Homo sapiens: one gene and its partner. The protein of the gene in region 1 purifies or fractionates together with the protein of each later gene. This does not show direct contact. Each region holds a gene or a part of one and is shown on either strand. Other genes may lie near its edges.

Region 1 (4,470 bases):
TTCCAAATAACTTTTCATTGTTTCCTATAATTTTACTATTAATAGTATAGGATTAAGAAAATAAACCTTATCTGGGTTCTGGCTGGCACTGCCTTCCCTCTAGGGATGAAAATGGAGTGTAGTCTGTAATATATCCTGGTATCATAAATATATTTATAAAATTATACAAATGTAGCTTGCAGTTCTAAAGGCATGTAATCTAATTTTTACTTGAATTTTATCTTTTTTCTCTTTTTGTCCTTCATAGACCTCGAGCTCTGTCTAGCCCTCAACTGTTCTCAAATCTCCATTGTTTTCTACAAGTGACCCTCACAGCTGTGGGCCTTTGTTGACAAATTGTTTCATCTCCTCTGGGTCTTAAATTATTTTCTCTTACTCTAAAGTGAAAATTTGATGAATGTTTCCAGATACTGCACTTGGAATCATAACTTAATTTCCCTTAACCTTGTGTAAATTCTGTCCCCCCACTACTCCCAACTCCTATCCCTCCTCCAAAGCACTGATACTTATTATCACATTTAAATTTTTTCCCCGCTCTACTGATAACTTACAGAATGCAGGACTGCATTGTGATGGGGTAATTTCCATGAGTTGATTGGTTGGTTTTGAGTTGAAAAACTTAACAATGATACATCTTAAATTCTTTCTTTGAGGATTATTCCTTAATGAATTCGTGCTACGGACATACTGAGGTGGTTATTTTTATATTTCCCTGATAATAAATTCTAAATTGCTAAGGGTTTCTTACCACCCTCGTCCTTTTACTGTTACTAGATCTATTTTTAGCTGGTGTGGGCGTCCCCAGCTAGTTTCACTTGCCTAATGCTAGTTCTTTTTTCTTCTACATCAGGTCGCCTCTTCCTAGCATCTTCTCCATGTTTCTTGTTGCTCTACAGCATTTACAAGACCCAGTTTAATAGTTTAGTGCCTTTTTTGTCACTCATTATTTCTTCTTTGTTCTCTGTTAAAATAATAAGTGTATGATCCATTGCACTTGCCTTAGAGTCTTGAACCAGTCTTGGATTTCCCGCCATCTGGGTTCTGGCTGGCTTGCAATTTCTCCTTTGATGTTGTAATACTTTTTCATTGAACTTGAGTGTGGGGCTTATAGAGCTTCTTTGCTTTCATTATTTTTTCCCAAAATGTGCACATTTTTTTTCTTAAGCTTATTTTGCTGTTTTGTGCTGTTATTTTTAATTGCTTCCCACTGGGTGGGGGGGTAGGGGGACTGAGAGTGAGATTTGGCTTGAGTTTGGCTCTCTTTGCTATTACTCACATTTCCCCCCAGAAGCCCTACATGCACTCCTCTCTCTCTGTCTTTGACAAATTACTTTTGAAAGATCATTGATCCCTGGCGTAAATGGTGTTAAGAGTAAGATGGACTCGGGTAGGGATGCTCAGGAATCCAGTCCTGTACAGTCATGAGCTTGGCCATCTGGAAGTCTCCTCTTGCTCAATGAAATGGAGTAAACATTGTCCATTATGAAATCCACCACACAGGCTGCCAGGGACGAATGGGATCCCACCCAAAGCCAATCGCTGCTCTGACAGGGAAATTGGCTAGCACTGCCTGAGACTACTCCAGCCTCCCCCGTCCCTGATGTCACAATTCAGAGGCTGCTGCCTGCTTAGGAGGTTGTAGAAAGCTCTGTAGGTTCTCTCTGTGTGTCCTACAGGAGTCTTCAGGCCAGCTCCCTGTCGGATGGCTTTTATGAAAAAATATCTCCTCCCCATTCTGGGGCTCTTCATGGCCTACTACTACTATTCTGCAAACGAGGAATTCAGACCAGGTAAGTACCCATGCGTCTCATTTTGGAGGAATAGGTTTAAAAAACACAGGGGTGCTTGAGTGTTCCTGAGGACCAAGATGTGTTCTTGATCCTCAAAGTTGGTGAAAATGAGGGAACCCTGAGTTAAGATGGTATTTTTGTGTCCTCCAGCTACAGGCTGTGGACAGGGGGGACTGTGTAGGAAGGGTAATCGTGTAGCCAAAATCTAGCCAAATAGGCCATGCTTTATTTGGCACCCTTAATGGAAAGCAGTTTCAAATCTTCTACAAAAATGAGAGTAATACCCAAATTCACAACTCAGCAGCTAATTGGGCTCTATGAAGAGACTGATAAGTGGGAGGCAAAAAAAAAAAAAAAAAAAACTGGAGATGATGACTACATAGAAGTGAGGGAAAATCCCTGGAATTTCTATGAACACATGTGTTTTGATTCCTTGTTAAATGTACTTTCAATTGAGCAAAATTGAAAGAGTCCAGAAATGTCTGGAACTCCAGCATTTTAGCTGAACCATGACTTTTCTGGCTTCATCCTATGATCTCTTTCCATGGAGGTTTTTAGAAATGACAGTAGGGAGGCTGTCAGCCCAAACCTCCCACTTCAGAGCATGTTTATGAAAGACCTGGCCTGTTCCCACAGTGATTTACGGAGTTTGTGACAAACTGATCTGGGCTCATAACCTTTAAGTTACAAATTGCGATAAGCATGCCTATATCCAGAGAGGGAGAAGGAATTTTGCTGCCAACTTGGGTATGGTCCTCACTTCCTTTTGGGGTTCCCCAGAGATGCTCCAAGGAAAGAAAGTGATTGTCACAGGGGCCAGCAAAGGGATCGGAAGAGAGATGGCTTATCATCTGGCGAAGATGGGAGCCCATGTGGTGGTGACAGCGAGGTCAAAAGAAACTCTACAGAAGGTGAGGGTTCTATGCTCGCAGATATGTGTACCGTCACATGCTCAGATGTGTTCTTATATATGCTCACATATACACAGAAGCTAGCATATCGCAGATCTATATACAGAGGCACATGCACACACACAGACACTTAATTTTGCACTCTCATATATAGATTCAAACACCAAAAAACCCACAGGAATATAAAAGTATGCATTTAAGCATTCATTCATGTGTGTGTGTGTAATATATTCTGCAACAGAGTCCTTGAGTTATATATGCTCACAGACATGCCTAGTCACACACATTTACACATGGAACTACAGATACATACGGATGTTTTCAAAAACTGAAATCCCAGTACCTGCTTATGAATACATATCCTCATACCCATGCAGACTCCCAGACACATGCCCTCTCATGGACTCACAAACCCAAGGATGTACAAACATTCACAAACCTAGAGCTACCCACATAGTAACCAGCATCTACACTCATAATGCCCTCAGAAATGCCTATTCACAGAAGCCATGAGCATAAATCATGAACTTAAACCCCAGCACTGGGATGATTTATCCATTTGAACCCCACCAAGTTCCAGAAAATATTTCAGACAGAGGACGATGATCATGAGGGTTATATTAGGCAACACACACACAAACATACTTACCATTTCTTACCTAAACAGGGCTGTGAGCAATCTCTCATTTAAGCCCCCCGTTACTTCAGAGACTACCCCCCAAAAATCTGCAGCTAAGACTGATGCCATTTCTGCTGTATCACTGCAGGTGGTATCCCACTGCCTGGAGCTTGGAGCAGCCTCAGCACACTACATTGCTGGCACCATGGAAGACATGACCTTCGCAGAGCAATTTGTTGCCCAAGCAGGAAAGCTCATGGGTGAGGCTGTTTCTCTTACCTCCTCCTCTGAACTTTGCCCTTGGGGTCACCAAGAGCTTTTGGGAGGAGAATGGGAAAGGTATCAACCCCAGATGATTTCTTAATATAGCCATCTCTTGCAGGAGGACTAGACATGCTCATTCTCAACCACATCACCAACACTTCTTTGAATCTTTTTCATGATGATATTCACCATGTGCGCAAAAGCATGGAAGTCAACTTCCTCAGTTACGTGGTCCTGACTGTAGCTGCCTTGCCCATGCTGAAGCAGAGCAATGGAAGCATTGTTGTCGTCTCCTCTCTGGCTGGTAAGTGGGACAGGGACATATGTGGAAGGTAGAAGAAAAAAAAAAATGCCAGGGATGATGCCAGGCTCTGAAGTAGACATAAATTTTTATCAGTTTCCATGCAGAGAAGTAATGAGGGATTGGTCAAGGTAAGTGGGCTACAAAATTCTTTTAAGTAACAGAGAAAAAGCAGTAGCTCTGAGTGCTCATTGGAAGACTGAATTGTTTTCTACAAAGTAAGGTCAAAGGGACTTGAGGGGCTGCTGGAGGTACAGCCTGTCCTGGTCCTAAGGGAGAGACCTAGTTACAATATTAACTTGAAGTTGAAATGTTCATAGTAATATTAAACAAAAGCTGATTAACAGCTTACTCATATGCATGAATGGGCAGATGTACTGATAAGAGACTTGTAGGGGGGTGATTTGTGGACTCAATGAGAGGCACGCATCCTGAGTAAAGGAGACACTGTTACAAACTAGTGACACCATAAAAAATGAAGGATTGGTCAAGGTAGATGGGCTACAAAATTCTTTTAAGTAGCAGAGAAAAAGCAGTAGTTCAGAGTGCCTATTGGAAGCCTGAATTGTTTTCTACAAAGGAAGG
Region 2 (3,820 bases), on another chromosome or scaffold:
TCAGCTAAAGCTTTCTCCTTGACCTCAAAATAGCTTCCATGAACAATATGTAGCTATAGGAGATTACCCTGTAGATTTGTTAGCATTGCTTTAGCTATATATTTTAAAATTATTTTTTTTTTCTTTTCTTTTGCTCTGTCACCCAGACTGGAGTGCAATGGTATGATCTTGGCTCACTGCAACCTTTGCCTCTCGGGTTCAAGCGATTCTCCTGCCTCAGCCTCTAGAGTAGCTGGGATTGCAGGCGCCCGCCACCATGCCCTGCTATTTTTTTTGTATTTTTAGTAGAGATGGGGTTTCGCCATGTTGGCCAGGCTAGTCTCGAACTCCTGACCTCCAGTGATCTGTCCGCCTCGGCCTCCCAAAGTGCTGGGATTACAGATGTGAGCCACTGTGCCCAGCCTTAAAATTATTTAAAAATGAATAATTACTTTTATCTTTTTCTACTAGATTTTTACTCTTGAGAACTACGATAGAGAATATAAATGCAATGAGCCTTTTTGACACACTACCCATGAGCATTGGTGGGTTTCTGGGAGGAGATATGTTAGGGTCTTGGCCCAGTTTTCCCGAGATTTTTCTAGAGCAGTACCGTCTGATACAGTAGCCACTAGGCAGATATTTAAATAAAAATTAAGGGCCGGGCGCGGTGGCTCATGCCTGTAATCCCAGCACTTTGGGAGGCCGAGGCGGGTGGATCACAAGGTCAGGAGATTGAGACCATCCTGGCTAACATGGTGAAACCCCGTCTCTACTAAAAAAATACAAAAGAATTAGCTGGGCGAGGTGGTGGGCGCCTGTAGTCCCAGCTACTCGGGAGGCTGAGGCAGGAGAATGGCGTGAACCTGGGAGGTGGAGCTTGCAGTGAGCCAAGATCGCGCCACTGCACTCCAGCCTGGGCGACAGAGCGAGACTCCGTCTCAAAAAAAAAAAAATTAAGTAAAATTGAAAAAAATTTTTTTATTTGCTTTAGCCACATTTCAAGCTCTCAATAGCTACGTGTGACCAACGGCTACCATATTAGGCAGCAAAGATAAAGAATATTTTTATCATCACAGAAAGTTCTATTGGTAGGGGCTGAGGCATCTCCAAAGGTAGTCTCAGCTCACCATACTAAGTTAGGATTCTTCCTTCTCTCTGTAGTTCATAGCAGAAATCCCAACAATGGGTGGGGCTAACTCATATATGTTATACCCATTTGAAATTACACACCTAATACTATTGTCCACAGTTCTGTTTTATGTCTTCTTTGGAATAGTTGCTGTAGAAAAGCTTCAACCAGGCTTAGGGGAAAAAAAAAAAGAGCCACTAAAGAAGCTGTGGGGTTCTGGATGCTGAAAGACAAAGCAAGTATAGGTAGGAATGACTTGTCTATACGTGGCTCTGCTCCTCCAACACTGGGGGCCCAGCTGTTGTTTTTCAGACCGCCCCCCACCAGGCAATGCTGCCTTTTGTTTGAGAGTCTCCATGGAGCATGTAGTTGGTAAGATACGTCCTCAGTGTTCACAGTTAGAAATTGTAATACTTTATTTGTAGAAATACCATTTTAGGGAGAGGCTAGATAGGTTGTATACTATTAAAACAAAAAAAGTTAAATAGTTTTTTTTGGACTTGAGATTCCAATCACCTTTGTGTTTTTTTTTTTTTTGATATATGACTTAAAGTGCACAAATATTAAGTGTACTGCTTGATGAGATTTAATAAGCATATACACATATAGACCTCTGTGATCATCACCGTCTAGATTAGGAAAACAAAGAACATTTTCAGCACCCGTGAATGTCCCTTGGGTCCCCTCCTGGTCATTACCACATTGGATTCTCTTTGAAGGAAGAATCCAGCCTTCTTTTAAAGTGGCTTTTTCTGTGAGAACGCATTCTGTTCCAAACAACTCCTAGCTTTGTACTTTAAGAAACACAATCTTTGTATGACAGGGTGCTGCTGTGTTTGACTATACCACTCAGCTATAAATTCACACTTAAAATCTGCTAGAATAGTAATGGTATGAATAAATACACTATCCGATTGATAGCAGAACTTGACCTGGTGAAATCAAAGTAGACCTATCAATAAGACTAAGGCTTAAACTCTAAAACAAATTTAGTAAAATCTCTGATCATTATGTTTTGTTGTCATGGGTTTTTCTTATGCTCAGAGACATTATCAAAATGTAGAAAACATTTCAGTAAACTTTGAGTATAATTTTTTTTTCCCTTTGTGAATTTGGAAGCCAGGACTAGCCGTTCTTTGATTTTTCACTGCCTTTCTGAGAACAATAGCCTCAGTGTGGGAAAGGAGGGACAGTTGGAGTCTGTTGCTGGTCTGACTTAATTCTTGCTGTCTCTTAGGCTAAGCTAGTACATTAGAAGCCTGTTCAGTAAAATTCACACCTACTTTTTAAATGAACTTTACTGTAAAGACTCTCAATCTTACTAGGAATCTAAAACACTGGAACTTGCTTCACATAGGAAATCAGAAGGATGCAGGAGACTAGAAGCACCACATTTGGAGCCAACTGATGATAGCAATATTGTCATAACCAGGATTACTATGATCACAAGAAGACAAAATAACTGATAAAATTACTAAGAGTAAAAAAAACAAAGAAGGGCTTCTTGTGGCTTCTGCTATCCTGGAACTGCTCTCTGTAGCAAGAGCTGGTCAGTAGCATGCAGAGGGCAACTCCGACCTGAAGGACATGAGAGCCCATTTTGTTTCTGCAGAGCAGCCCTCCTGTGTGTGGTGTACATGGTTTCTGTGTAGGTTTCCACTTGCAAATGTGCACATCCTTGCACATATGTAAAATGAGTTATTTTATCTCCTTTATCCATATTAAAGAAAAGTAGGAGAAAGGCAACTTAGTTCTATCGGGAGAACCATCCTCTATATGGCCATTTGTGCACATTTATGTGTATCTCTACTTTGTCCCTGGCAGTGTTCTCAGTATCTTACCAACTAGAATATTACCAAATTAGAGTTTCAGTATGATGTTAATTGATGTTCATAGTGGTGTCTTCAGGATGTGGCTTTGCCTATTGTTAATCAAAGAAAGTTAAAATCACCTTCAATTTTGTTTTAGTGTTATATCTGTCTTAATCAAGTTTTTTTGAAAATGTAGTAATAGTCTGTGCTATATTTGATAGTATGTTATTAATAAGAATGTTTGATTCATCACAATGTCATTCTCTTGTTATCCTGGATCAAGGTTTCTCCTCTAAGGAAGGTGAAATGTGCTAGAAGCAGTTATCTGTAGCACTAAAATACTTACATTTGAGACTTGTAGGTTATGATAGTTGTTAACAGATAATCACAGAGCAATAAAAGCTCAAATTCCAAGTGTAACTTCTGTATTTGTTATTAATACTTGAATTACAACATGTTTTAAGGTTGGTTTTCCTGATCATATTTATTTTTTCTTTAATATAGTCCAGCAAAATTAAAAAAGGAAGCAAAGGAGACTGTACTGTACTGAAGCCCACACTTATGGCTGCTGTTCCGGTGAGTACAGAATATGAATATGAACATAAGAGGATTGTTTATATAATTTATTGATCGTACTTGGACCTTTTAAAAAGTAATACTCTTAGATATGTCTACATTTTAAAATAATTTTACCTTGTTGAAATCACAGCAAATGTGTTCATTAAAATCTTAGGTACCATACTAGGGAAGACAAAATGGCAAGATTTTGAAATGCACGCCTGTTTGAGTTTGCTGATACATGAAAATTAGGTGATGAAAATGACCTAGTTCAGGTTACCTACTGTGAGAATTGGTCAGACCGTTTTAAGGTAGAATATATTCTAAAGATCATCTTGTT

What was found.
Region 2: the proteins of HSD11B1 (region 1) and ACSL4 purify together in Homo sapiens (affinity purification with mass spectrometry; one large-scale study listed by BioGRID and IntAct). This does not show direct contact.

The regions. Positions count from the first base shown.
Region 1 is NC_000001.11:209,703,241-209,707,710, forward strand, and holds the start of HSD11B1 (11-beta-hydroxysteroid dehydrogenase 1), read left to right. Parts: upstream 1-1,605; 5' UTR 1,606-1,702; coding exon 1,703-1,790; intron 1,791-2,570; coding exon 2,571-2,701; intron 2,702-3,468; coding exon 3,469-3,580; intron 3,581-3,702; coding exon 3,703-3,888; intron 3,889-4,470. UniProt on the Homo sapiens protein: Controls the reversible conversion of biologically active glucocorticoids such as cortisone to cortisol, and 11-dehydrocorticosterone to corticosterone in the presence of NADP(H).
Region 2 is NC_000023.11:109,674,080-109,677,899, reverse strand, and holds part of ACSL4 (long-chain-fatty-acid--CoA ligase 4), read left to right. Parts: intron 1-3,426; coding exon 3,427-3,498; intron 3,499-3,820. UniProt on the Homo sapiens protein: Catalyzes the conversion of long-chain fatty acids to their active form acyl-CoA for both synthesis of cellular lipids, and degradation via beta-oxidation. Preferentially activates arachidonate and eicosapentaenoate as substrates.